Regions from separate parts of the Homo sapiens genome. Here region 2 is linked to region 1. The links come from fine-mapping of genetic effects on gene expression. A gene starts in region 1. The other region holds a variant in brackets. All regions are shown on one strand. Distances are between the middles of the regions.

What was found.
Region 2: its variant is fine-mapped to the expression of PIP4P1 in subcutaneous fat (FUSION, PIP 0.91).

Annotation. Positions count from the first base shown.
Region 1 is chr14:20,455,854-20,468,845 of GRCh38, forward strand. It overlaps PIP4P1 (phosphatidylinositol-4,5-bisphosphate 4-phosphatase 1), which reads right to left and starts at 5,581. Exons shown (of 7, transcript NM_144568.4): 1 at 5,331-5,581; 2 at 4,802-4,992; 3 at 4,339-4,445; 4 at 3,775-3,880; 5 at 3,535-3,587; 6 at 3,353-3,443; 7 at 1,828-2,849. The coding sequence starts at 5,472. The coding sequence ends at 2,706. APEX1 (apurinic/apyrimidinic endodeoxyribonuclease 1) reads left to right here. Exons shown (of 5, transcript NM_001641.4): 3 at 61-248; 4 at 815-1,007; 5 at 1,138-1,914. The coding sequence ends at 1,655. RefSeq lists silencers at 1,237-1,531, 5,036-5,205, 5,266-5,675 and enhancers at 4,901-5,867, 5,796-5,865, 5,868-6,833, 6,166-6,245.
Region 2 is chr14:20,033,293-20,049,241 of GRCh38, forward strand. OR4K13 (olfactory receptor family 4 subfamily K member 13) reads right to left here and starts at 2,746. Exons shown (of 2, transcript NM_001004714.2): 1 at 2,646-2,746; 2 at 1-1,689. The coding sequence starts at 1,466. The coding sequence ends at 552. It also overlaps the pseudogene OR4U1P. The variant G/T (reference allele first, on the strand shown) is at 6,518.

The DNA of each region.
Region 1 (12,992 bases):
ACGCCGGATCGCAGTTGGAAACCACCAGCTTTTTGTCAGTATATATTACTCATTTTATAGAGCCAGAGGCCAAGAAGAGTAAGACGGCCGCAAAGAAAAATGACAAAGAGGCAGCAGGAGAGGGCCCAGCCCTGTATGAGGACCCCCCAGATCAGAAAACCTCACCCAGTGGCAAACCTGCCACACTCAAGATCTGCTCTTGGAATGTGGATGGGCTTCGAGCCTGGATTAAGAAGAAAGGATTAGATGTGAGTGGAATTTGAGGGAAAGAGACATTTTTTAGTATTGAATGGTCTTAGGGTTTAGTCACCCCTTTTCTCCGTTTAGCCTTCAGGCTGTTTTATTTTTCTCCTGCCCGTAGTTTTCTGTGGGGCTTCCCCAGTCTTGCCAGTTGTATTTCCTAAATGTCTGTTCCTTCACTTCCATTGCCATTTTCTTTTTTAGTGTTCTCTCCTCTTCCCAGAATGTTGCAAAAACCTCTTCACTATACTTCCTCCATTTTATCTTCCTGCATTGCATTCCATATGAAGCATGTCCTCCATTCCATTAACCATAGCTTAAAAATCTTAGCTTGCTATCCACTGCCTATAGAAAAAACACATCTCCTTGGCATAGCATGTAAGACTTTCTTACCTCTCTATATTTGTTTTCATTTATCTAGCTTAGAATTGTTTGAATATTGTGCTGCTTGACTCGAACTCCTTAGGCCAAGAGACTGTTTAACCCGTGCGTATCTATGACTTAGCATATAGATTATTCAATAAATGTTCTGCTGAATTGATAATACGTTTTCCACCTTTCTTTTCACTTACAGTGGGTAAAGGAAGAAGCCCCAGATATACTGTGCCTTCAAGAGACCAAATGTTCAGAGAACAAACTACCAGCTGAACTTCAGGAGCTGCCTGGACTCTCTCATCAATACTGGTCAGCTCCTTCGGACAAGGAAGGGTACAGTGGCGTGGGCCTGCTTTCCCGCCAGTGCCCACTCAAAGTTTCTTACGGCATAGGTGAGACCCTATTGATGCCTAATGCCTGAACTCTTCAAAACCAATTGCTAATTCTCTATCTCTGCCCCACCTCTTGATTGCTTTCCCTTTTCTTATAGTTTTTTATGCTAATTCTGTTTCATTTCTATAGGCGATGAGGAGCATGATCAGGAAGGCCGGGTGATTGTGGCTGAATTTGACTCGTTTGTGCTGGTAACAGCATATGTACCTAATGCAGGCCGAGGTCTGGTACGACTGGAGTACCGGCAGCGCTGGGATGAAGCCTTTCGCAAGTTCCTGAAGGGCCTGGCTTCCCGAAAGCCCCTTGTGCTGTGTGGAGACCTCAATGTGGCACATGAAGAAATTGACCTTCGCAACCCCAAGGGGAACAAAAAGAATGCTGGCTTCACGCCACAAGAGCGCCAAGGCTTCGGGGAATTACTGCAGGCTGTGCCACTGGCTGACAGCTTTAGGCACCTCTACCCCAACACACCCTATGCCTACACCTTTTGGACTTATATGATGAATGCTCGATCCAAGAATGTTGGTTGGCGCCTTGATTACTTTTTGTTGTCCCACTCTCTGTTACCTGCATTGTGTGACAGCAAGATCCGTTCCAAGGCCCTCGGCAGTGATCACTGTCCTATCACCCTATACCTAGCACTGTGACACCACCCCTAAATCACTTTGAGCCTGGGAAATAAGCCCCCTCAACTACCATTCCTTCTTTAAACACTCTTCAGAGAAATCTGCATTCTATTTCTCATGTATAAAACTAGGAATCCTCCAACCAGGCTCCTGTGATAGAGTTCTTTTAAGCCCAAGATTTTTTATTTGAGGGTTTTTTGTTTTTTAAAAAAAAATTGAACAAAGACTACTAATGACTTTGTTTGAATTATCCACATGAAAATAAAGAGCCATAGTTTCAGCCTTGCTGTCTTCGTGTCTTACCCCTTCGTGGGGCTACACATTCTCTTCCTCATATTTTCATGCACACAAGTTAACAACTGAAAAAGCGTAGAGTCATGACCTTATTTATTTACAAGCACAGGATAAGTCCCTAACCTCCCCCAAAGACTGAGCAACCCTACCCAGCCCAGTTAAATACTGCAACTGGGGGGGTAAAAAAGGTCGGGAGGAGGAATTAAGGGAAATACAGGAATAGGGGAACATATCCCACATTAAATAGTTATATACACATCAGTTCCTGTGGTTCTGTACAGAGCAGCGGCTGACCCCACCCCCACAGGACACAATGTGGGGAGAGGAGACTGAGGGTACTGAGGCCAGAGCCAACCTCTGGTGAAGTGCAATAGCAGCAGCAAAGTCCTAATGGTGCACAAGAGGGAGGGGAACCCCCAGGGCTACCCACCCCCACCCTGCCCTGGAATGTGTAAGGGACAGGAATGGCTCTCAGGGAGCACACAGGAAGGACAAGGCTGGAACCGTCTTCAGGGCCCAGTTTTAAGGGCAACGTTTTGCCTACTTCACCCTAGACACAGCAACCCTTGGAGGAAAGCAGATGGTCAGCAGTGCTCTTATCTGCCCCTCCAAACCTAAGTGAGGGCCTGGTTCCTTCCTACCTCTCCCCAGGGAAAAGGAAGGCAGCTGCTTGGCTTCCTTCTAGAAGCCCCGGGAGCCTTTAACTACCCCAGCTCCCTTCGTAGTGTCACTGTCCCCACCAGGGAGGGGCCAGGCACAGTCTGTGGGTCATCAGGCTCAGGAGAAGTTCTGGACAGGGTGGCTGACCTTCATACAGGCCCAATAAAGAGCCCGGCCCAAACACAGCACAGCCAACAGGATGACAAATGCCCAGGCTGCATAGATGCCTCCATATCGCCGTGCATGCTTCCATGTGCCAAACTGATGAAGATAAGGAGGGAGAAGAAAAGAAAGATGGGGTTAATGTTGGTCTCCACTACCTCCTATTAGTTCTAAGAACAGTAATAACTCACGCTTCAGTCCTTGTTCCTTATCCACATGTAGCCACCCTCAGGGACCTTCTTAAAGGCAGAGCTGATCAGCTTCCTTCCCTTAGGCGTAACATACTCATCCCATCCCACACTGTATCTCAGTTTTTCTTAATATCTGACAACTGAGCCAGGTTTGAAAAATAGCAACTCTTAAATTAAGAATTTCACTGTCCTATCCTCATCCTACAGAGAAAGGAAGGCTGTTTTTCACTCTTGTAGTAGTAATAAAGTCTGTTTGATCAGCCACTTTGCACTTTAGCTCATCCATATCTTAAAACAAAACAAACTAGTCCCCCAAGTTTCTTCCACTTTTTTTTAGGGTAGCAGTTTCCCAAATCTTAGCCTATGGAGATGAGGCTGCAGAATGAAAGAGGTTGGGGCAAGGGTACTCACGGCAAGGCCAGTGGCAGTGACTGCCAAAAGCAAGCCAAGCAAGAAGCAGCAGATACATCTCTTACGTGGGTATCTGCGCCCAATAGATGACCTGTGGGGAGGCAAATAGAAATGGATGCTTTCTATGGCCTTGTAGTTTTTACTCCATACATCAATTACCAGCTCAATCCCTAATCACTTACACTTTCCTGCAGTGAGGACAACGTGCCAAAGTGCGGTCTGTGAACTCTGTCCACTATGGAGAAAGAAAACAAAAATAATAGCACAAGCAGGGTCTCCCTCAATGAGAACCTTGGGGTGGGGATGCAGAACATGTTCCCATAGGACAGACCTTTCAGGGGTCATTACCATTACTCTAAGAAATATACTCGAAATGACTCTTAGTCTCCTTTCCCCTCCCCTTCCCAATACCCCTTCCTCACCAGAAAAGTATTCTTGCAATGTCCACAGATAACCCTGACACCCATGGGTTGGGGTTCTGGACTCAGAGGTCCGGGATGCACAGGCCCCAGGTTGATGATTCTTTTGCTATACAAAAGAAAAAGACTTGTATTTTCAAACTTGTGTTTGAAAAATTTTTAATCCTAAAAATCTTCACAGTCCCTGTTCCACATCCCCCACTCCCTGTCTATTAAGTCACTCGACTTCTCTGTACTTAAGATACTCTGTCCCCCAACTGTATACCCTCAAGAATCCTTGAGAAAGAAAGAGCACTGTTTAAACTTCAGGTCCCCAATTCCCCTCCGACCTCAGGATAACACACCCAGTCCCCAAGGCTCTCTATTCTCCGAAACGACATCATTTCATCTCAATATTTTTATTGAGAAACGAGAAAGACAGCTATAACATTCCTGAGGCACATGCTTCAAAGCCTTTTCTCCTAAATAAACACTAGGCTCTCTCACCTTTACATTCTCTGTATACGCTCATCCTTTTTTGACTTTCCAGTTCCCCACTTAGGCCCTTCCCCACCTTATGCCTCTTACCAGTAGGGCCGAGGGCATGCAATCCGTTGGGATGTCACTTTGCAGATAAGGAGACAGTTACAGGGGCATCGAACATATTTTTTCCCTGGGGGTGCATTCTTGATTGGCTAGAGAATAATAGGGTCATCAGCAAGCAAACCTCTAATCCCAATCCCCTCCACTTCCCTCCAAAAACACTTTATGAGATCAGAAAAATAAGGTGCTAACCAGGAAGGAGAAATAAAAGAAAGACTATATCATGAGATTTGCAAATAGGAACTAGGCTAGGTGTAAAAGTGAGAGAAAGTGAACATTAGCTTTGGTGAGTGGCTTCTGGGGAAATGGCTGTGTGAGACACCTGGAACTGAAACCTGGGTATCATCAAAAGCACTTGGCTAATAGCCGGAAGGTCAGGGTCTAGAACCAAGACATCAGAAAGAGGATCCAGGAAACAGGGCCCATTTCATAGATATGTGTAACTCACGGTGGCTTCATTGCAGACACCACATTTGACTACATGCTGATGCATCTTGCCTTCCACGTTGATGAGAGATTGGCAGACTCGGCAGGTGATCATAGGGGCACTCCCACTGTCCGGGCTAGTTAAGGGTGAATAGGGGGGTGGGTCCTCCCCAGGCAACACGGCTGGATGCCCCTCGGGAAACGGGGGAAATGCTGGAGAGGAAGCAAATAGAAGGGCTGGGATCACTTACACCCCCACTGATGCTCCACGGTGGTAGGGAAGTCCTTCTGATCTTCAACCCTCTGACCAAGCTCGGAGGGCTTCTCATAATTGGCACTTCTATCAGGTTGCTCAGAACCCCCTTCCGTCCCTAGGCTGTGGTCGCGATTACGGAGGGAAGGAAGCCTCGCCCAGTCACAGGTGCAGCAGTCCCGCACCTGGCGACTGGGACCCGCCTCCGCCCTCGGTCCCGCCCCCTCCCCGGCTTTCAGAGTACCCCGGGGAGCACCTCGGACCCGCCCCGGCTTACCCTGGGGCGGGGCATGTTTACCGGCTCCGTACGGTGGTGCGGAGGGGGTCAGGCCTCCCCCGGGCCCAGCCCCACTCCCGCCGGGCCCCACTAAACCGTTGCCGCCCGCGCCACCGTCGATGGGCTCAGACAGCAGCGGGGAACGCTCTCCATCTGCCGCCATGGCCGCCACCGCCGCCTCCCGCTCAGGTCGGCGATCCGGCTCCCTTCGCCTCTGCCGTCGCCGCAGCCACCGCCACCGCCGCCACCGCCACCGCCGCTACCGGGTCCCCAGGGCGCCTGCGCGCCGCGCGCCCAGCTCACTCCGCAACCAGTGGCCTGCCCCGCCCCGTTCCGTCTAGCAGCACGTGATAGGCTATCCCCGCCCGGGTCATGCTATTATTCGCGTAGATAAACCAATTCCTGGTCCTGTGAAGGCAGCTCTCCTTTTCCATTGGGGAGCGACGCACAAACGTCAACTGTCACATGACCTGCCAGATGCTGCTGGGCTTGCAAAACCTGCACGTGACTAGAGGTTCTGCAAGCTATTGGGAGCGACGCCCATCGCGCTACCTCCAGACCAGGAGGTAGGGCTAGGCTGCGTCTGCTCAACTGGTCACGTGTTTCTGGAAGCTGCACGGTCCCTGTTGCTCTGCTCCTCATTGGTTCAAAGACACCACTAAAACACTTTTCTCCGGCTTTGCGTTGTAGCTGGTTTCCTATTGGCTGGTGACTTTACTTCTTTCGTCCTGTGATCCTAGCGGCGCAACTGCATTGGCCCGAACTTAGCGCCAGAACATGGGGGGCGTGGCTTATGCATTTTAAAGGAGGCTGGGCGGGTGCAATAAAGGAGTGCGGAAGCTTGGGATCTTCTGAGCGGGGAGAAAATGGACGGTGGGGAACAGTAGACAAAGTTAGCTGTTCTACTCAAAGAAGTACCTTTAAAAAGTCAGAGTAATGAGGTACCAGAAGGAAATGGATTAAAAAGTTAAGATTATCACTCCAGCCTTTGTCGCTAGAGTCACTTTCAGGACAGGACACAAGACTGGGTTTTCCTGGAAGCTGTCCTTACAGAGCCCCGTCTTTCCCCATTGCTGATCAAATTGTTAAATTATCTTTTCATTAGTGTCTCCACTACTAGAAGATTTCATCGTTTTACTAAAAAAAAAAAAAAAAAAATTCAATAGAGATGGGGTCTTGCCTATGCTGGACTCAAACTCCTGAGTTTGATCTCCTGCCTAAGCCTTCCCAGTAGCTGGGACTACAGGGACAAGCCACCGTGCCTTTACTCAGTTTTATGACCACCAACCTTTAACATACGCACAAGTTTGTAGATTGGATTAATCAAATACAAGGTTATTTTCGTCACCTTATTTGACAGATGGGACAGTCTTTAGGCCTGTCTCAACTTTGCTTCCAGCAAAGGGGCAGTGCCTCCTCCCCTACCTGAAGTCTCGTGTGGTCTTTATGGGCGCCTGAACCACACCTGGATTTTTTCCCAAGTCATAGCCCAAACTGGGACTGCTTTAAATATGGGAAGCAACAAGGAATTGATAAAAACAATAAACCCCGAGGAGGTCCATTATCAGTTTGGCTAGCAGACTCTCCACTAAGAAAGGAAGTGCATCAAAGAAAGTACAGCCAGCCCCAAATATGTAATAACAAAGGAACTGCAGATGTCCCAGCACTTGGCTGCTACAGGGGCTGGAGACTTCACCTAGGTCCTGATTTTTTTAGACAGGGTTTTCTCAGGCCAACTTCTACTTGGAAGCTAGTAACCTTCGACCAGTTAGATAAGAGCCCCTAACAGACACTTAAAGAACTAAGGAAGCTCCAGATACAAAATAGGGAAGAGGTTGTAGCTCCATAGAGGGAGGCCAGTCTGCTGCTTTTTCTGCTGTTTGTGGCACACAGATGCTCAAGCATTGTCTGGGGTTGGAGTAGGATCCATTATTTGCGCCCTAGTTACACATATATTCCAAAAACTGTCCTAAAAATATTTTTTAAATATCTACACTTTGTGAAAGACACTCCTTAAAAAAGCTTACACTCTGGGTAGGGAGACAGAATAGTGTAAACATTGACAGTATAACATATCAGGTCAGGAGTGGTGGCTCATGCCTGTAATCCCGGTGTTTTGGGAGGCTGAGGTGGAGGATTGCTTGAGCCCAGGAGTTCAAGGTTACAATGAGCCATGATCTAAACCTGGGCAACAGAGCAAGATCGTGTCTCAAAAAAAAAAAAAAAAAAAAGAAAATCAGCACTAGTATTTTATTACATGGAAAAATATCAATACTAGAAATTCATGATACAGCACATGCTTCATAATAAAAGAATTAAACAATGTAATTCAAGTTCAAGAAAAGAAGAGATCACTTCTAGCTAGAGCAGCCAGAGAAAACTTCTAAAACATAAAGAAAAATGAGTATTGTGCATGGATAACTAGGATCTGAGCTCTGTGTTGTTGAGTAGATCAATAGGCAGAAAAATGCAAAAAGTAATCATAATATTTGGAACTTGCTCACAGTTAATAAAGCATTTTTTTTTTTGAGACAGAGTCTCACTCTGTCGCCAGGCTGGAGTGCAGTGGTGTGATCTCTGCCCACCTCCCGGGATCAAGCGATTCTCCTGCCTCAGCCTCCCGAGTAGTTGGGATTACAAGTGTGTGCCACCACACCCAGCTAATTTTTGTATTTTTAGTAGAGATGGGGTTTCACCATGTTGGCCAGGATGGTCTCAATCACTTGAACTCGTGATTCACCCGCCTCGGCCTCCCAAAGTGCTGGGATTACAGGCGTGAGCCACTGTGCCCGGCCAATAAAGCACATTCATAGTTATATTCATTTTATTTCAGAACCCACTGTGATGTGGACAGGGAAGGCAAGACTATATCTTTATTTTACAGATGTGGAAACTGAGGCTGTGTAAACTGGAGTCATTTAAGCTAAGTGACAGATTGAAATGGAGCTCTAAATCCCCGTCTTCTGACTTATGATCTAATATTTTACATTCAAATAATTTGATAGGTAGATTGAAAGGGACAGAAGCACAGAAGTGGCAGAGAGAAGGTGCTTGGGATGAGCCCCCTTTTATGCTAAATGCCTGGAACATAGAAGCTGCTTGATAGATGGCTCTCTAATTAATTAATGAAGTAACTTAAGCCCCATCTTGGGATAAATTTGCTGGGTACTGAACAATATTGTTAGCTGCAGTTGCAAGCAGGGAGGATATTCAGCTGGGGCACTACAGGGTGGCTGGCATTGGTTGTTTATGGCGCCATTGGTTCTGATTGGTTGGTACCTGTATTTTACAGATAAGCCATTTTAATATTATCTCTGGTAAATATTGAGTGTCTCAGGTATTGCCTGATTTTTACCTATGGGGTGGGATCTTCTCACTTAGATTGAGAACAGTTAGGCTATTGAGGTGTATTAATTTGCTAGGACATAAAAAACACTATAGATAGCATAAACGACAAACATTTATTTTCTCACAGCTCTGGAGTCTGGAAGCCCAAGATCAAGATATTGGCAGGTTTGCTTTCTCCTGAGGCTTCTCTCCTTAGCTTACAGATGGCCACCTTCTCACTGTGGCATAAATGGCCTTTTCTCTACACACATTTTTGCTTTCTCTTCCTCTTTCTCTTCTTTTTCCGTGCTTTTAGAGACAGGGTCTCACTCTGTCACCCAGGCAGGAGTGCAGTGGTGCAGTCATAGTCTGTGGCGGCCTTGAACTCCTGGGCACAAGCAGTCCTGCCACCTCAGTCTCCCAAGTAGCTGGGATGACAGGTGCATGCCACCATGCCTAGCTAATATTTTAATTTTTTGTAGAGACAGGGTCTCACTATGTTGCCCAGGCTGGTCATTGGTCTCTAACTCCTGGGCTCAAGTGATCCTCTTGCTTTGGTGTCCAAATGCTGGGATTACAGGTGAGCACCACCCTGCCTGGCCTCTCTTCTTCTTATGAGAACAACAGTCTTATTGGATTGTGGCCCCACCATTATGACCTCATTTAAACTTAATTACCTTTTTAAAGGACTTATCTCCAAATATAGTCACAATGAGGATTAGAGCGTCAATATAAGAATTTGGGGGAACACACTTCATTGTGTTATATAATAGAATAGATTTCAAAGCATTTTTTTCTTTAGATTTCCAACAAAGTGATAACTAGTACAGTGTGTACATGGCCAGAGGATGGGGTGGAAAACATCTGCTTGGCTTCTATGACCCAAAGTGTCCCAATCTGATTTCTTTTTTTTCACATATTCCACATGCCCTATTTCTTTTTTCCTCTTTCCTGAAGTGGTAATTTACCACCTGTGTGAAAACAACACAATCCCTTACTGCATTTCAAAGGCACAGAAAGTTTCTGGTAATGTGCAGAGTGAGTTAACTAAGACGAGGGGTAGTTTGCCGGGGGTTGGGTGGGATTGGGTAGGGTGTGACCTGGTTTTAAAGAATTAATTTACGTTAATTACATTGGGACTTTGCTCCCTTGTGCTCCTTGCTCTTCCTGGGCCTCAGTTCTTTGCTCTTTCCTTTAGGGAATTCCTGGCTTCCCTTTCTAGGAGCCAAGGTCTTTGGAATAGAGGGTGGTAGGCCAGTCCTTTATCTCTGCTCTGTTCTTCCTGCCACTGAGTGAGGCACAGATGGAAGTCTCACTCTTAGAAAAGAGAAATAAAAGTGATCCCTATAACAGAAAGAGAAGGGCTGGATGTGCTGGTTCATGCCCATAATCCCAGTACTTTGGGAGGCTGAGGTGGGAGGATCACTTGAGCCCAGGAGTTTGAGACCAGCCTGGGCAACATGAAGATACCCCATCTCTAAAAAAATAAAAATAAAAAATAGGCGAATGCGGTGGTGCGTGCCTGTAGTCCTAGCTACTTGGGAGGCAGAGGAAAGAGGATCGCTTGAGCCTAGGAGATTGAGGCTGCAGTGAGCTGAGATTGAGCCACTACACTCCAGCCTGGGTGGCAGAGCGAGACCCTATCTAAAAACAAACAAACAAACAACAACAAAAAAAAAACAGGGAAAAACCCTAAAATGTTTTAATTTCAGTAATTGGAGAAAATGGAAGACCAAAGATTATGGTGATAAGGGGAGTAGATATTTTATTTTATTTTTTGAGATAGGGTCTCACTCTGTCACTCAGACTGGAGTGCAGTGGCTCCATCACAGCTCACTGCAGCCTTGACTTCCTGGGCTCAGGTGATTCTCCTGCCTCAGCCTCCCTAGTAGCTGGGACCACAGATGCCACCACACCTGGCTAATTTTTGTATTTTTTGTAGAGATGAGACTTCACCATGTTGCTCAGGCTGGTCTCAAACTCCTGGGCTCAAGTAATCCTCCTGTCTTGGCTTCCCAAAGTGCTGGGATTACAGGTCTGAGGCACTGTGCCTGGCCAGGGATAGATATTTTTAAAACCGCATATTTAGCTTGTGATCTAGAGAGAATAAGAGATCTCAGTTGAGAGGGCAGGAATAAAATACGTTCCACAAGGCAATACTGAGTGACTTAGAACCTATTCCTGCCACTTTTTTTTAGTTTCCTTGATCTTGCGGGTGGAGGGTAAGTGTGTTACTAAGTATGTTCCTGGACAAGGAGTCCCTCTGAAGATAGAAGTGATGAGAAGATAGAAGAAAAGGTAATAAGGCATTAATGAACTCTAATCACACTAAGATTGATGATCGTCTGGTTCCTGTCTATAGGAATGCTACAGGAACTCTTTTACCCTAAAAGTAAATAATAAAGCACAGTTCCAGTTTCTTTTATGTGGATACAAGGTGGCAGTGACTAGAAAAGATAAGAACAGTGCTGTGCTCTAGCATAAAAACGTAATTATGCTATGCAATATGGTAGCCACTAACCACATGTGACTATCGAGAAGTTACAATGTAATTAGTATGATTAGGTAACTGAATTATTTTTATTATATTTCATCTTAATTAATTTTATTACTTTTAAATAGCCACACATGGCTAGTGCCTTCTGTTTTGAACAGTGTGGGATTCATTGGTATTGATAGGCTGGATATACCTCTAGTTTTTATTTTGATTCAATTTATGGTTAGGTGAGTCTAGAAAGAACAAAAGAGAAAGAGACAATGGAGATTAATCATAATAGCCAGCATTTAATGTGTGCTTATTATATATCCAGGCATTTACCTAAACATGTAAAAGGTATTCTGTATAATCCTTGCAAAAATACTAAGATTATTGCTATTTTACAGATGAAAAAATTGAAGCATAATAAGAATTTTACTTGCCTAGAATCACACGAGTAAATAAGGGGTGAAGATGGCATTCATACACAGGTAGTTTTATTAGAGCCCATTCATTTACACTACATAGATTCAGGAATGAGGTGGCATGGAGTGACTGGGGCCATGGTTCCCAAACTGTGCCAAAGTACAAGCTCACAAGGGTATTGTGGAATATTTTTAATTTTCAGAGGAAACACAGCAATATTTTATATTTCTTAAACACTGTGTGACCTATTAACTTGAGGTGATTCACAGTTGGAACATTAGATTGTGCTACATTCCTTTTGATGACAATATATCTGGCCAGGTGTGGTAGCTCATGCCTATACTCTCAGCACTTTGAGAGGCCGAGGTGGGCAGATCAGTTGAAGTCAGGAGTTCAAGGCCAGCTTGGCCAATATGGCAAAACCCCGTCTCTACTAAAAATACAAAAATTAGCCAGGCATGGTGGCAGGCACCTGTAATCCCAGCTACTCGGGAGGCTGAGGCAAAAGAATGGCTCAAACCCAGGCAGCAGAGATTGCAGTGAGGCAAGATCGTGCTACTGTACTCCAGCCTGGGTTACAGAGTGAAACCCTGTCTCAAAAATATATATATATATAAAGACAACATATCTTTACAAAAGATGGTTTTAGAAGGTCCCTCTGATAAAAATTAAGTATTAAGTAAAAAAAAAAAGTACTGTGTAAAAATCAGCATGGAACAGAAAATGAGGGTGGCAGCATTGGATTCCTGCATGTGAGAAGTTGAGTAGTGCCAAACAGATGTACATATCCCGTAAGTAACTGTTTGTGGTTATTTAAGAACGAAATTTTTTTTTCAATTTGTGTGCATTGTTATTTTCAAAGTGCTAGTAAGTTCTCAGGAACCAGCTACTCACTCTGTTGCCCAGGCTGGAGTGCAATGGTGTGATCTCAGGTCACTGCAACCTCCACCTCCCGGGTTCAAGCCATTCTCCCTGCCTCAGCCTCCCAAGTAGCTGGGATTACAGGCGCCTGCCACCACGCCCAGCTAATTTTTTGTATTTTTAGTACAGATGGGGTTTTGCCTTGTTGGCCAGGCTGGTCTCCGACACCTGACCTCAGGTGATCCACCCACCTCGGCCTCCCAAAGTGCTGGGATTACCGGCGTGAGCCACCGCGCCTGGCCTTTATATATAAATTTTTTTTTAATTTTTTAAATTAAAAATTAAATGTAAATTTAATGTAAAAATGTAAATTAAATGTAAAAATTAAATTGTAAATGTGGGCAGAAGTAATAGTTGTATTCTACCAAAGACACGCTATTTATGTTATATTCTGGTACCCGTGTATTCCGATAACAGAATTTTCTTCGTGGGAGGAGTCCTCTAGTTACCTGAATTGCTTGGATCAATATTGCGCAGATCAAGGGATTATCTGTGTCCCTACCCACCAAATCCATCCTTATCCTTTCTGTCGG
Region 2 (15,949 bases), 420 kb before region 1:
GCAGTTTTCTAGCCTGTAAGGCACTTGGATAAATAACCGTGATGAGATGTCATCTGTGTGCTTTCTCTAAACATAGATTACCAATAACAACAACAAAAAACCTAACAATAATAATGTGTTTTCTGAGGTTTAAGAGCATGCTAAAATAATAATGAAAGATGCATATAAACAAGGTTGTATAGACGAAAAAACTAAATCACAGGGAACTTATTTATTTTCTTCAAATTTGCACCAGAGAAACTGATAAAGGTGGGATTTAAATGTATACAAGCCAAACTGTAGATATTATGTGTTTGACCATAAAAGATCACAAAAAGGTGTTTGCTTTTTAACAATTACATCTACTATTTCCTCATATGGAACTTGAACTGTTAGCTGGTACACAAGTTATAGTGGTTTTTGCCATTACTTTAATTTTGTCATTTACTTTAATGGCAAAAACCGCAATGACTTTTGCACGAACCTGATACATTAAAAACGAGTTTCTTAAATGTTCAAACAAACAAGAGAGTGTCTCTTCAAAAGTCTCATCTAAAAAGTATGCTTTAAATTTATATGCAGAGTCTTTTTTTAATGGCTGCTTTTACCTCTTGATTTCTTAATGTATAAATAATAGGATTTAAGAGAGGTGTGAAAATTGTGTAAAACACAGAAAGAATTTTATCTACCGAGTATCTGCTGAAGGGCCAGACGTAGATAAAGACACACGGAGCAAAGAACAGAGTCACAACTGTGATGTGAGCTGAGAGAGTGGAGAAAGCCTTAGAGGATCGACTAGCAGCACGGTACCTAACTGAGAATATTATGACTCCATAGGAGACAAGCAAGAGGAGGAAGCAGACCAGTGACAGGAGCCCACTGTCAGCAATGACCAGGAGCTGTAGGATGTAGGTGTCCTTGCAGGCAAGTTTAATCACAAGGGGAAGGTCACAGAAAAAGCTGTCTATAACATTGGGACCACAGAAGGGCAAAGTCAACATGAAAGCCATTTGACTAGATGAGTGCACAAATCCAACTGCATAGGAGGATAACAGTAGCCCAGTGAGCACCCGTGGGCTCATGATGGTCATGTAATGGAGGGGTTTGCATATGGCAACATACCTGTCTATTGCCATGGCTACAAGCAACATCATCTCACTCCCACCCAGGAGGTGCATAAAGAACATCTGGGAATAACATCCCCACCATGAGATGGTCTTACGTTCTCGGAGGAAATCTACAATCATCTTAGGGGTAGCAAAAGAAGCCAGGATCATATCAATGCAGGAGAGGTTGCTAAGCAGAAAATACATTGGTGTGTGAAGGAGCGAATCAAAGGTCACAGTCACCAAGATGAGCAGGTTTCCTAACACAATCCCCACGAAGACCACAGAGAATCCCAAGAAGAATAAAATCTGAAGATTTTGAGATTTGGAAAGTCCCAACAAAATAAATTCCGATACCACTGAATGGTTTGCTCTTTCCATATCGTCAACTTTATCCCATAATGATCAAAATAAGTGAGAATAAGGGGTAGGGAAATGATGCATATTGGAAAGAAATGTTCATGTTGATGTCCACATTTGGTACTCAGTCAAGGCACTTGAACTTACAAGGACCCTTACTTTTGTGGAATTTTGTCAGTCAGTGATTTTACTAATGGCCCAGAGAAGTATCCCAAATAGTCAGTAGAATTCAGAATATAAGTTTCTGGAAGACAAAAATAAAAACATTAATAGTACATGAAACCACAAAACTATAGGTCATGAATTAGAATCAGAAGACCTCTACAGGACACCTGGGTAAGCTGCTCACTGGGTGACACAGGACAAGTAACTCTCCTTTTGAGGGTTTTCTTCTCAGTGAAAAAAAGAATTTGGACTATATGGTATCGAATGCCTCTTTCTGCTATAAAGATCTCTATGAATAAGATAATGATTCTGGTGAGTTTTATAGTCACAGAATAATATTGAGTTTTATTAATGTGGAAAGGATATCAAAAATACATCCAGGATTCTCAAGAACCATGTTTTGAAATGGACTCTGGTAAAGAAATATGAATTAGGTCCTGAGAAACTTACCTTATTTCCTCCATGCTCCATTCTTGCATGAATCCCTCACAGATCAGTATTAGCAGTAGTCACTACACACTTTTGAAGTGTCAAGTATATGTATAGTATATATATATTAAACATGTATATTACATACATTTCATATATTTATATATATTTATATAATTCGTTCATTCAACATTTCATATTATTCACATCAAATACCTCCTCTAGATGGTTAGACAATGTGTACAAACAACCCACAGTCAAATGTAATTGACTAATTTCACTTTCAGCTTGCATTCATTTATTCATTTACCTGGTTATTGCTATGTAGTGGTTAGCTGGTTGGCCTGTGTATGGTTGTCATAGGTTTCAAAATGACTTAGCTTGATGTAACATTTATGTTGGTAAAAGAAATACAGTTCTTTCAGTATAATCTAAATTTATGACAAAATTTGTCATCGGCTCATGCTTATTACAAACTGGTTCTATTGGTTCAGCTTTTAAAAAAATTGCCTCCGTTGCTAATAGTTTTAAATTAATCTAGGTCTTACAAAACACCTTCAGTAAATAAAGTATTTGTAGTCATCTTTTTGTGCTGTTATTACTTACAAGACAGGGGAAAAAAACTTTCGTGATGGCGTCGTACGTGAATCCCAGGAATGGCCTTTTATCTCCTTTTCCTGTATCCCCATCAGTTATCTGCAATTTACTCTTCCAATCATCAGAAACAGAAAAAATAGAGACCATAGTGCTATATGTTTCTATGAGATAATCCCATAGGAACACTTATCCAACTAGGGATGTATTTTTTTCCCTATGTAAACATATCTGTTGGCCAATTTCCCACTCTGAGAAACTTTGATGCAAAATATTAAATTTCATCAAATATGTAATTAGAGCCATTCATTTATATGTCTATAAAGGTAATAGCTCTCTTCAGTTTTATGACTAATATTTAAGAATTCCTACTAATGCTTCTTTTTGAAACCCAATTTTTGAAGCTGCATTTAAACAGAAGAGAACAATTTTCAAATACATACAAAGAAGTTTATAAATCCTCCACATCTGGAATAGTGCATATCAAAAACACTAAGTGAATATCTGTTGAATGAATAAACTATGTAGTGCATATTCAGGATCTAGATTAAGTCAGCTGACTTAATCCACAGAAAAATCCACAACATTAGGAATTTTAACAATATTTATTTTTAAATGTCAAATTGAATGTTGAAGTATTTTAAAATCAGAAATAGAACAGCCATTCTTAAAAAGCTGGTTAAAATATGTTTTTTTCTTTTAATTATCTTTTAAAAAAAAAGGTAGTTTATGCCAATGTGAAAAAAGCACATCACAGATAACAGAAAGACTGACTGAACATTTTAAGAGCTTCTTAGATAACTTTCCAGAAAAATAATACACACTTCAGTACAGTGTGTGTGTGTTAGTGTTACAGGTATTTATATTTATATCATTTTATTAAGACTGCAGATTATATATTATATGTATAGCTATTTTTCTTGAGTTTTTAACTTATTACATTTAAATATGTTTATATTAACATATAGAAACATAACTTTTTAATAGGTGTATAGAATTCCACTTTGTAGATGTTGCATAATGTAATCTCCCCACAAATACAGTTTATTCTTAGAATGAATTTAACATTACCTATAAAAATTATTTTTCATCATATCACTCTCTTCTTTATAAACCTGTGATAACTACCTTATCAATCCCTAACTTCTCCTGGATATTCATAATCAACTCCTCACCCACCCTAAAAATCCAATATTATTTTCTTTTTTTTTCTTTTTTTTTTTTTAATTATTATACTTTAAGATTTAGGGTACATGTGCACAATGTGCAGGTTAGTTACATATGTATACAAGTGCCCTGCTGGTGTGCTGTACCCACTAACTCGTCATCTAGCATTAGGTATCTCTCCCAATGCTATCCCTCCCCCCTTCCCCCACCCCACAACAGTCCCCAGAGTGTGACATTCCCCTTCCTGTGTCCATGTGTTCTCATTGTTCAATTCCCACCTATGAGTGAGAATATGCGGTGTTTGGTTTTTTGTTCTTGCGATAATTTACTGAGAATGATGATTTCCAATTTCATCCATGTCCCTACAAAGGACATGAACTCATCATTTTTTATGGCTGCATAGTATTCCATGGTGTATATGTGCCACATTTTCTTAATCCAGTCTATCATTGTTGGACATTTGGGTTGGTTCCAAGTCTTTGCTATTGTGAATAATGCCGCAATAAACATACGTGTGCATGTGTCTTTCTAGTAGCATGATTTATAGTCCTTTGGGTATAAACCCAGTAATGGGATGGCTGGGTCAAATGGTATTTCTAGTTCTAGATCCCTGAGGAATCGCCACACTGACTTCCACAATGGTTGAACTAGTTTACAGTCCCACCAACAGTGTAAAAGTATTCCTATTTCTCCAGATCCTCTCCAGCACCTGTTGTTTCCTGATTTTTTAATGATTGCCATTCTAACTGGTGTGAGGTGATATCTCATTGTGGTTTTGATTTGCATTTGTCTGATGGCCAGAGATGGTGAGCATTTTTTCATGTGTTTTTTGGCTGCATAAATGTCTTCTTTTGAGAAGTGTCTGTTCGTGTCCTTTGCCCACTTTTTGATGGGGTTTCTTGTTTTTTTCTTGTAAATTTGTTTGAGATCATTGTAGATTCTGGATATTAGCCCTTTGTCAGATGAGTAGGTTGTGAAAATTTTCTCCCATTCTGTGGGTTGCCTGTTCACTCTGATGGTAGTTTCTTTTGCTGTGCAGAAGCTCTTTAGTTTAATTAGATCCCATTTGTCAATTTTGGCTTTTGTTGCCATTGCTTTTGGTGTTTTAGACATGAAGTCCTTACCCATGCCTATGTCCTGAATGGTGATGCCTAGGTTTTCTTCTAGGGTTTTTTATGGTTTTAGGTCTAACGTTTAAGTCTTTAATCCATCTTGAATTAATTTTTGTATAAGGTGTAAGGAAGGGATCCAGTTTCAGCTTTCTCCATATGGCTAGCCAGTTTTCCCAGCACCATTTATTAAATAGGGAATCCTTTCCCCATTGCTTGTTTTTCTCAGGTTTGTCAAAGATCAGATAGTTGTAGATATGCGGCGTTATTTCTGAGGGCTCTGTTCTGCTCCATTGATCTATATCTCTGTTTTGGTACCAGTACCATGCTGTTTTGGTTACTGTAGCCTTGTAGTATAGTTTGAAGTCAGGTAGCATGATGCCTCCAACTTTGTTCTTTTGGCTTAGGATTGACTTGGCGATGCGGGCTCTTTTTTCGTTCCATACGAACTTTAAAGTAGTTTTTTCCAATTCTGTGAAGAAAGTCATTGGTAGCTTGATGGGGATGGCATTGAATTTATACATTACCTTGGGCAGTATGGCCATTTTCATGATATTGATTCTTCCTACCCATGAGCATGGAATGTTCTTCCATTTCTTTATATCCTCTTTTATTTCACTGAGCAGTGGTTTGTAGTTTTCCTTGAAGAGGTCCTTCACGTCCCTTGTAAGGTGGATTCCTAGGTATTTTATTCTCTTTGAAGCAATTGTAAATGGGAGTTCACTCATGATTTGGCTCTCTGTTTGACTGTTGTTGGTGTATGAGAATGCTTGTGAGTTTTGTACATTGATTTTGTATCCTGAGACTTTGCTGAAGTTGCTTATCAGCTTAAGGAGATTTTGGGCTGAGACAATGGGGTTTTCTAGATATACAATCATGTCATCTGCAAACAGGGACAATTTGACTTCCTCTTTTCCTAATTGAATACCCTCTATTTCCTTCTCCTGCCTAATTGCCCTGGCCAGAACTTCCAACACTATGTTGAATAAGAGTGGTGAGAGAGGGCATCCCTGTCTTGTGCCAGTTTTCAAAGGGAATGCTTCCAGTTTTTGCCCATTCAGTATGATATTGGCTGTGGGTTTGTCATAGATAGCTCTTATTATTTTGAAATACGTCACATCAATACCTAATTTATTGAGAGTTTTTAGCATGAAAGGTTGTTGAATTTTGTCAAAGGCCTTTTCTGCATCTATTGAGATAATTATGTGGTTTTTGTCTTTGGTTCTGTTTATATGCTGGATTACATTTATTGATTTGCATATATTGAACCAGCCTTGCATCCCAGGGATGAAGCCCACTTGATCATGGTGGATAAGCTTTTTGATATGCTGCTGGATTCGGTTTGCCAGTATTTTATTGAGGATTTTTGCATCGATGTTCATCAAGGATATTGGTCTAAAATTCTCTTTTTTTGTTGTGTCTCTGCCTGGCTTTGGTATCAGGATGATGCTGGCCTCATAAAATGAGTTAGGGAGGATTCCTTCTTTTTCTATTGATTGGAATAGTTTCAGAAGGAATGGTACCAGTTCGCCCTTGTACCTCTGGTAGAATTTGGGTGTGAATCCATCTGGTCCTGGACTCTTTTTGGTTGGTAAGCTATTGATTATT[G/T]CCACAATTTCAGCTCCTGTTATTGGTCTATGCAGAGATTCAACTTCTTCCTGGTTTAGTCTTGGGAGAGTGTATGTGTCGAGGAATTTATCCATTTCTTCTGGATTTTCTAGCTTATTTGCGTAGAGGTGTTTGTAGGATTCTCTGATGGTAGTTTGTATTTCTGTGGGATCCGTGGTGATATCCCCTTTATCATTTTTTATTGCGTCTATTTGATTCTTCTCTCTTTTTTCTGTATTAGTCTTGCTAGCAGTCTATCAATTTTGTTGATCCTTTCAAAAAACCAGCTCCTGGATTCATTAATTTTTTGAAGGGTTTTTTGTGTCTCTATTCCCTTCAGTTCTGCTCTGATTTTAGTTATTTCTTGCCTTCTGCTAGCTTTTGAATGTGTTTGCTCTTGCTTTTCTAGTTCTTTTAATTGTGATGTTAGGGTGTCAATTTTGGATTTTTCCTGCTTTCTCTTGTGGGCATTTAGTGCTATAAATTTCCATCTACACACTGCTTTGAATGCATCCCAGAGATTCTGGTATGTTGTGTCTTTGTTCTCATTGGTTTCAAAGAACATCTTTATTTCTGCATTCATTTCGTTATATACCCAGTAGTCATTCAGGAGCAGGTTGTTCAGTTTCCATGTAGTTGAGTGGTTTTGAGTGAGTTTCTTAATCCTGAGTTCTAGTTTGATTGCACTGTGGTCTGAGAGATAGTTTGTGATAATTTCTGTTCTTTTACATTTGCTGAGGAGAGCTTTACTTCCAAGTATGTGGTCAATTTTGGAATAGGTGTGGTGTGGTGCTGAAAGAAATGTATATTCTGTTGATTTGGTGTGGAGAGTTCTGTAGATGTCTATTAGGTCTGCTTGGTGCAGAGCTGAGTTCAATTCCTGGGTATCCTTGTTAACTTTCTGTCTCGTTGATCTGTCTAATGTTGACTGTGGGGTGTTAAAGTCTCCCATTATTAATGTGTTAGAGTCTAAGTCTCTTTGTATGTCACTAAGGACTTGCTTTATGAATCTGGGGGTTCCTGTATTGGGTGCATATATATTTAGGATAGTTACCTCTTCTTGTTGAATTGATCCCTTTACCATTATGTAATGGCCTTCTTTGTCTCTTTTGATCTGTGTTGGTTTAAAGTCTGTTTTATCAGAGACTAGGATTGCAACCCCTGCCTTTTTTTGTTTTCCATTTGCTTGGTAGATCTTCCTCCATCCTTTTATTTTGAGCCTATGTGTGTCTCTGCACGTGAGATGGGTTTCCTGAATACAGCACACTGATGGGTCTTGACTCTTTATCCAATTTGCCAGTCTGTGTCTTTTAATTGGAGCATTTAGTCCATTTACATTTAAAGTTAATATTGTTATGTGTGAATTTGATCCTGTCATTATGATGTTAGCTGGTTATTTTGCTCATTAGTTGATGCAGTTTCTTCCTAGTCTCAATGGTCTTTACATTTTGGCATGATTTTGCAGCAGCTGGTACCAGTTTTTCCTTTCCATGTTTAGTGCTTCCTTCAGGAGCTCTTTTAGGGCAGGCCTGGTGGTGAAAAAAATCTCTCAGCATTCGCTTGTCTATAAAGTATTTTATTTCTCCTTCACTTATGAAGCTTAGTTTGGCTAGATATGAAATTCTGGATTGAAAATTCTTTTCTTTAAGAATGTTGAATATTGGCCCCCACTCTCTTCTGGCTTGTAGAGTTTCTGCCGAGAGATCTGCTGTTAGTCTGATGGGCTTCCCTTTGTGGGTAACCCAACCTTTCTCTCTGGCTGCCCTTAACATTTTTTCCTTCATTTCAACTTTGATGAATCTGACAATTATGTGTCTTGGAGTTGCTCTTCTCGAGGAGTATCTTTGTGGCGTTCTCTGTATTTCCTGAATCTGAACGTTGGCCTGCCTTGCTAGATTTGGGAAGTTCTCTTGGACAATATCCTGCAGAGTGTTTTCAACTTGGTTCCATTCTCCCCATCACTTTCAGGTACACCAATCAGACGTAGATTTGGTCTTTTTACATAGTCCCATATTTCTTGGAGGCTTTGTTTGTTTCTTTCTATTCTTTTTTCTCTAAACTTGTCTTCTCGCTTCATTTCATTCATTTGATCTTCAATCACTGACACCCTTTCTTCCAGTTGATCGAATCAGCTACTGATTCCTCAGGGATCTAGAACTAGAAATACCATTTGACCCAGCCATCTCATTACTGGGTATATACCCAAAGGACTATAAATCATGCTGCTATAAAGCCACATGCACAGGTATGTTTATTGTGGCACTATTCAGAATAGCAAAGACTTTGAACCAACCCAAATGTCCAACAATGATAGACTGGATTAAGAAAATGTGGCACATATACACCATGGAATACTATGCAGCCATAAAAATGATGAGTTCATGTCCTTTGTAGGGACATGGATGAAATTGGAAATCATCACTCTCAGTAAACTATCACAAGGACAAAAAACCAAACACCGCATGTTCTCACTCATAGGCGGTAATTGAACAATGAGAACATATGGACACAGGAAGGGGAACATCACACTCCGGGGACTGTTGTGGGGTGGGGGAAGGGGGGAGGGATAGCATTAGGAGATATACCTAATGCTAAATGACGAGTTAGTGGGTGCAGCACACCAGCATGGCACATATGTACATATGTAACTAACCTGCACATTGTGCACGTGTACCCTAAAACTTAAAGTATAATAATAATAAAATTAAAAAAAACATATTTAAATCTACTTTGTGTCTTTTCTATTAGTAAGGTCTCTTTGGCAGGGCACTGTGGCTGACACCTATAATCCCAACACTTTCAGAGGCCAAGCTGGGAGGCTGTCTTGAAGCCGGAAGTTCAAAACAAGCCTTGGAAACAAAATGAGACATCTTGTCTTGATATAAAAAAAAAAAATTAGCCAAAGTGGTGGCGTGCACCTTAGTCCCAGCTACTCTGGAGGCTGAGGTGGGAGGATTGCTTGAGCCGAGGATTCCAAGGCTGTGGTGAGCTATGATCACACCACTGTACTTCAGCCTGGGTGAGACAGCGAGACTCTGTCTCAAATAAATAAATAAAAATAAGGTTTCCAGTCAGATATAAACTATTTCATCTTTTTCTGGTTATTTTAGCTCTCATTTAAAAAATACTGTATTATTATGTCTTAGCTAGCTTCTTTCAAAATTTTTGGCTACCATTATTTATATTTCAATGGGTATCGTTTCACATGGGTCTGCTTCACCTATCTAGAACAACATGGAGGTGTTCCCTGTCAATCACTTTTTTTTTAAACCAGAGTTCTGCACTTTATAATATCGTTATAAATGGTATGGATAGTTTAAGAGATCTGTTTGGACATTAAGCTGCTTGTCAGAGAAAGTAAGTGAGGCAGAGGGAAGCCAGCAATAAATGTTCATTATGCTATCTCTGAGCACTATACTCCCCAATCTACTAATTCACGTGCTCCATGGGAGGAAACTCAAATACTGGACCCTTCTTTCAATCTCAGGAAAATTGAGGCCACCTCAAGTTGCACAACCATAGATTCACATGTATCAAGGATTCATTCTGTTTATCATCTCTGCTTATCTTACTTTCAGCAGCAACTACAGAAGTGACTCCTAGTATGTTCATGTTCCATATTCCATCTTATCAATTTCATTTTTCTTGATCCTTCTCAATTAAAAAACCATTTGCCTCCTCTTTCACTTGCATGTTCCTCATGATTTTTGAGTGTAGAAAGAGATTTGAAGAGGGACAGGCCCTCTTCTTTGCCTATGGAGGACCAATAAATCTGTTCCTCCAATTCTGAAGAGGTGGCAGGAAACTTCCATACCTCCTTACCAACTGGGTTATTCACCTTTCTCAAGATTGATGTAGATATGAGTTACATATTGATGGCTTCAAATTTATTCAAACATATTGGCAGTTATTCATAATTTTTGCTGAGAAATTATGTCTACTCTTTTTTTAATATTGGATTCATTTTTCTTCAATACTTTTGATTCTTTTTGCACATTTCAGTGAATTTTAGAAGCAGTGTTAAGTGCATATGTATTTCATTTCTCATATCTCTCAGAATTTAATTTTTATTTTGTTTTAGGTCATATATGCCAACAGACAAACAAATGGAAAAACAAAATCAGTCCATGGTGCCTGAATTTATTTTGTTGGGATTCAAAAATCTCATGAGCTACAGATTTTCTTTATCTTATTTTTCCATTCTCTACATATCCATAATTAAGTAACCTAATCATTATCTTTGTAGTGAAACTGGATCCTCAATTGCATTCTCCCATGTACTTCCTACTGGCCAACCTGTCATCTACTGATATGCCCCTGGCCTCCTTTGCTACTCCTAAGAAAATCGATAATGTAATTAGTGAATATAGGACCATCTCCTATGAAGGCTGCATGACATAGAGATTTTTCCTTCACTTTTTAAGTGGAAGTGAGATGGTTTTACTCTTAGCCATGGCAATCGATAGATAATTTGCCATATGCAAACCCCTCCATTACAAGTCCATTGCATCGGACTTGCTCCTCGCTCCTGGACTATGGATTTCATGCACACCATGAGCCAAATTGTTCTCACAGTGACTTTGCCATTCTGTGGTCTCAGTGTTGTGGATATTTTTGTGTGTGTGTGATCTGCCTTGTGATAAAACTTGCCTGTACAGACACTTACATCTTGGAGCTATGAGTCATTGCAGACAGTGGACTACTTTCTTTGCTGTGTTTCATGTTTCTGTTAATCTCCTATAGCACCGTCCTGATTATTATTTGACATCATTCCTCCAGGGGGTCTTCCAAAACTCTGTCCACGCTTTCAGCCCACATTATGGTGGTGGTACTGTTCTTTGGAGCTTGCATCTTTACCTGTGAAAGACCATTCAGCACTGTCTCCATTGATGTCTGTGTTTTAAACTATTTTTGCTCCCCTTTTAAATCCAATCATCTACACATTCAGGAATAACGACATGAAGAAAGCATTAAGAAAAATGAAGATTAACTTTGTGAGTTCTAGATCAACTTGATAACTAAAATATTATAATCACTAAAAGCATCATCATTATTGTTGTCATCATCATGATCCAAAGACACTGAAGTGGAGGATTTTTGTACCAAACGTAAGCCATATTTTGGGATATAATAATCGATCCCCATGTAAGTGTACATGTAATATAATATTCTGATTTTTCCTCCAAGTACAAACTATTCCAATATGTTATTTGCTTATGTTGTAATTTTATGTTGCCTATTGATTAAATTATATTTTTAAATGTAATTTATTGAGTGCTATTCATGTATGAGGCACTTTCCATAAATTTTCTCCTATTTCACAACAAGGAAAATAGAGAATATTATTTACATATTATCAATAGGTAACAAAACTGAGCATTATAAAACGTAATGAAATTGCCACAGAAATATAAGTACTAGATCCAGTATCATATCCTATACCTAACTATAAAATCTATGTTTTTCTAACTAAAAATGCTTTCCTATCTACATTTTAATAACATAATTTTTTTGTTTTCTGAACACTTCTTTACAGATCATAGTCCTCAATAAATAAATCTTTGCAAAAAGAAAATATGTGGTATTTTATTAACCTGAAAGTAAATACTGTCACTAATACCAAGACATTTGAATCTTCTTCCCCTCCAGTTTTTTTTTTTTCTGTTTGTGTGTGTTTGCTCATTTGTTTTGAGACAGGGTCTCGCTCTGTCACCCAGGCTAGAGTGCGGTGCCCCTATATCAGCTCACTCCAGCCTCTGCCTCCCAGGTTCAAGTGATTCTCCAACTTCAGCCTCCCAAGTAGCTGAGACTACAGGCACGAGCCACCAATGCCCAGCTAATTTTTGTATTTCTTGTAGAGATGGGGTTTCACCATGCTGCCCAGGCTGGTCCTGAACTCCTGAGCTCAAAGCAATCCTCTTGCCTTGGCATCCCAAAGTGCTGGGATTACAGGCATGACCTACCACACCCATCCCAGACATTTAAGTATTCTTTCACCTCTAATTAAAAAGAGAAGAGCTTATTAAACCAGCCAAGTTGACTCACTCCAATTATCAATGCATACTAGAATTGCTGTTGTACAGTTGGGTAGGGAAGCCCATGTCTGAAACCCAAGTGATTTGCTGTTGTACCTCATATTATTTGCATATCAAGTAGTAAAAATAAGTGAACATTACATCACCTAGGAAAAATAAAATTTTTATTCATTCCACCACGTAAAGAATCACCATCACTGGAGATCTGAATGCATACAAAGAGGAATAAAATAGGCAGTAAAAGAAGGTAGCCGTGAACATTAATTGTCTCACAATTTGTTAGTAAAATGATGATTTTAGAAGCTACAAATTTTTTATATAAATTGCATTTGTTCACAAATTCCTGGTTCCTTTTTTCCTTTTTATTTTTTCTTATCAAGGAGACTAATTTACAATTTAGTCTCTAGGTTACAGAATATTAATGTGGGATTATGAATGAATTCGAAAAGATGGCAACACCGTACAGAAATGGATATAGTAACCAATGAGGATTTTTGGTTTTCAGTTAGAGAAAGGAGGCCAGAGTGTCTTAATTTGTTTGCAGGATAGATGCATCTTTAGACTGAAGCTATTGTCATTCTTTGGAAGTTTAAATAAATGTAGAATGATGTGTATTGATACTGAGTAACCAAAGGGGAGCATTCTGAATGTTTGTCTGTTGACCTTCAACCCCATGTCAGCTCTATAGTCTTCTCTCTACAGTAGGGAGTTACAAGCCTGAAAACTGCATTTCCCAGACTCTCTTGTAAACTTATTCCTGTGAGTTTCTGCCAGTAGAAGACATTCATATGATACTGAAAGGTGAAAAAAAATGAAAAAATGGAGAAGCCTTAGATTTCTCTTCTGTCTTTCTCAGTAACTGTAGCAGGCAACTGTGGACTGTAGAAGTCTTGGTGGGTCCCAGCAGCATCAGCAATATTGAAGGCTCTTGAAGCTTCCTTAAGTATATGAGCTCTTAATTTTTAATACAGGATAGAGGTTCCAACAGCAGCAATGATGCCACTGTGCCAACAGGAATTGTGGGCTCTGTATAATATTGCTTCCTTTTTTTTCTCATCTAGCCTTTAGAGTGGTAGTTGCTTTCTGCAGTAACCTAAATGTTGATAATATCATCTAACCTTTTTTGTTCCTCATTTCTGAGCTACTCACACATTTTTATTTTCAACTTCCTACTATACCCTTCCCCAGCTATCTTGAAGGCATCTCAAGCCCAAATGCAAAAAATTAAATTACCTAACTTCCAAAGCCTGTTATTTTTTCTGCACTCCCTATTTGAAGTAATATGATCATTATCAGGCTAACATCCAATCTAGAAGCCAAAGTTGACATTTCATAACATATGTAGGTGCTCTTACTAGTGTTCCACATTCTCTGAGGCTCTATTTATTTTTCCTTATTTTTATCCCTCTCTGTTGAGATCGCATAATTGCTACAGATATGTTTCCAAGTTAACTGGTGCCAGCTCAAATCTACTGATGAGTTCCTTTATTGATTTCTTCATTTGAGTTATTATACATTTCAACTTCTGAATTTCCATTTGGTCCTTTTTTTTATAATTTCTATATCTTTATTGATATTCTTTATTTGCTAAGACATGGACTTCATATATTCCTTTAATTCTTTAGACATGGCTTTCTTTACTTCTCAAAATATATTTATAATAACTGTTTTGAAGTTGCTTTCTACTAGGTGCAATATCTTGGTTCCCATAAAAGCAGTTTCTATTGGCTTTTTTCATGTAAATGTCACACTTTTGTGTATCTTTGCATTTCTCATCATTTTTCACTTGAACATTGGACATTTTATTGTAGTAACTCTGATTACTGACCACCACTCCCATCCACTGATGATTTTCTTGTTATTGTTTGTTTAGTTGTTTATTTAATGACTTGGCTTAAACCTGTGAAGTCGATTTCCCCTGCAGTGTGCAGTGTCTGATGTCTCTACTCCAAATGTATCCCTTTTTAAAATTCTCCTAGCCTGGTACTTGTGGATTATGTCAAGGACAGCACAAGCTACTTATGGAACAAAGATTTTGCTTAAGTATCCTTCCTGACCAATTAGATTTTTATCCTTTATCACTAGACGTAGGTGTGGCTAGGAGGCTTCTATCAAACTCAAGAAACTTACATTTTTGCCCCACATTTATTTAGGGACTAGAATGTTCCCTCTCCAATCACTCCTGAGAATTACACACATGTGGACATTCACTCAGTCCTCCAGACTGCCAGGAATCTGTGTGATTGTATTTGTAAGCATAGCTTCCTAAGAAGTTGCTCTTGGTTCAGTGTAGTTTGTTATTTAGCTAGTGTTTGCTTAGAGGTTTTGCTTAAGCTTCTTGTGCCAGTAAGCCTTCAACCCTTTGTCAATGGAATTGTGTGTGGCTTTAAGAATGTTTTCATTTCTGCCCCATACCTTCCTCTGATTTTCTTCTAAGTGGATGCAGCCAGTACATATCCACAGCGTCTCCTATTCCCAGGACTATCTATGATTCCAGTAGGGCTCTTATCTGTCTCTTGCCTGATCCTCTTTGATAAACATGTTGACTCTGCCATGTGACATGTTGATACCAGAAACATGGTGCTATCAGCAACTTCTTAATTGTTCTCCATCAGCATCTCTGTGGTTTCTGACAATGCCTATAGACATGGAACTCTTGAAGCTCTGTTCCAAATAAAGGTAGGCCCCTCAGGTGGAGCTGCAGAGTTTTCATCCTTATGGCATGCCTTTCTTCCTGGGCAGAACTTCTGTGCCAGTGCACAAGAGCAGGGACAGCAGCCCACTTCTCCCAAGATGATATGCCTGCTCTCTGAGTGGGCACTGAGAAGAGTCGAGTCTCTGGTCATCTTGGCTTGCCTTTTCTGGCACAAACGACTGCTGTACAAGCAAGCTAAAAGACAGAGGTGATAAGAGGGCGCTAGTATTCTCAGCCTGTTCCTGCTCACTCTACAAGTAGATGCTAGGTAGGGAAAGATAGCCTCATCCTCTCCTCAGAGTCTACTAGGAACAAAGCTTCTGCAATACTTAAGTCCTAACGCTCCCAGGGTGAAACCTGAAACCATAGCCCTCCACCTAAAAGTGAGGGAAGATGGAGTCCTGCCTTTTTTCCCACACCTGCTTGGAGTACAGCATCCAGAGGAGGGCTTCTATATTACAGGACTGGGAGAGAAATAGGAGAGGAGGTAGCAGTAGCGGCGTGAAACCCCAGACTTGCTGTTCTTACAGAGATTTGGAAGACTCTCTTAAGAGTATTTCTCCATTTTCTGTATGCCCTAGGACAATTTCCTGAGGCTTTAAATTATTGTCTTTTAGAAGTTTCTCTATCAAATGTTTGTTTTGTTAGGGAAAGACTCCACCAGGCTCCTTACTCTGTCACTCCAAAAGTCTCCAATTTTTA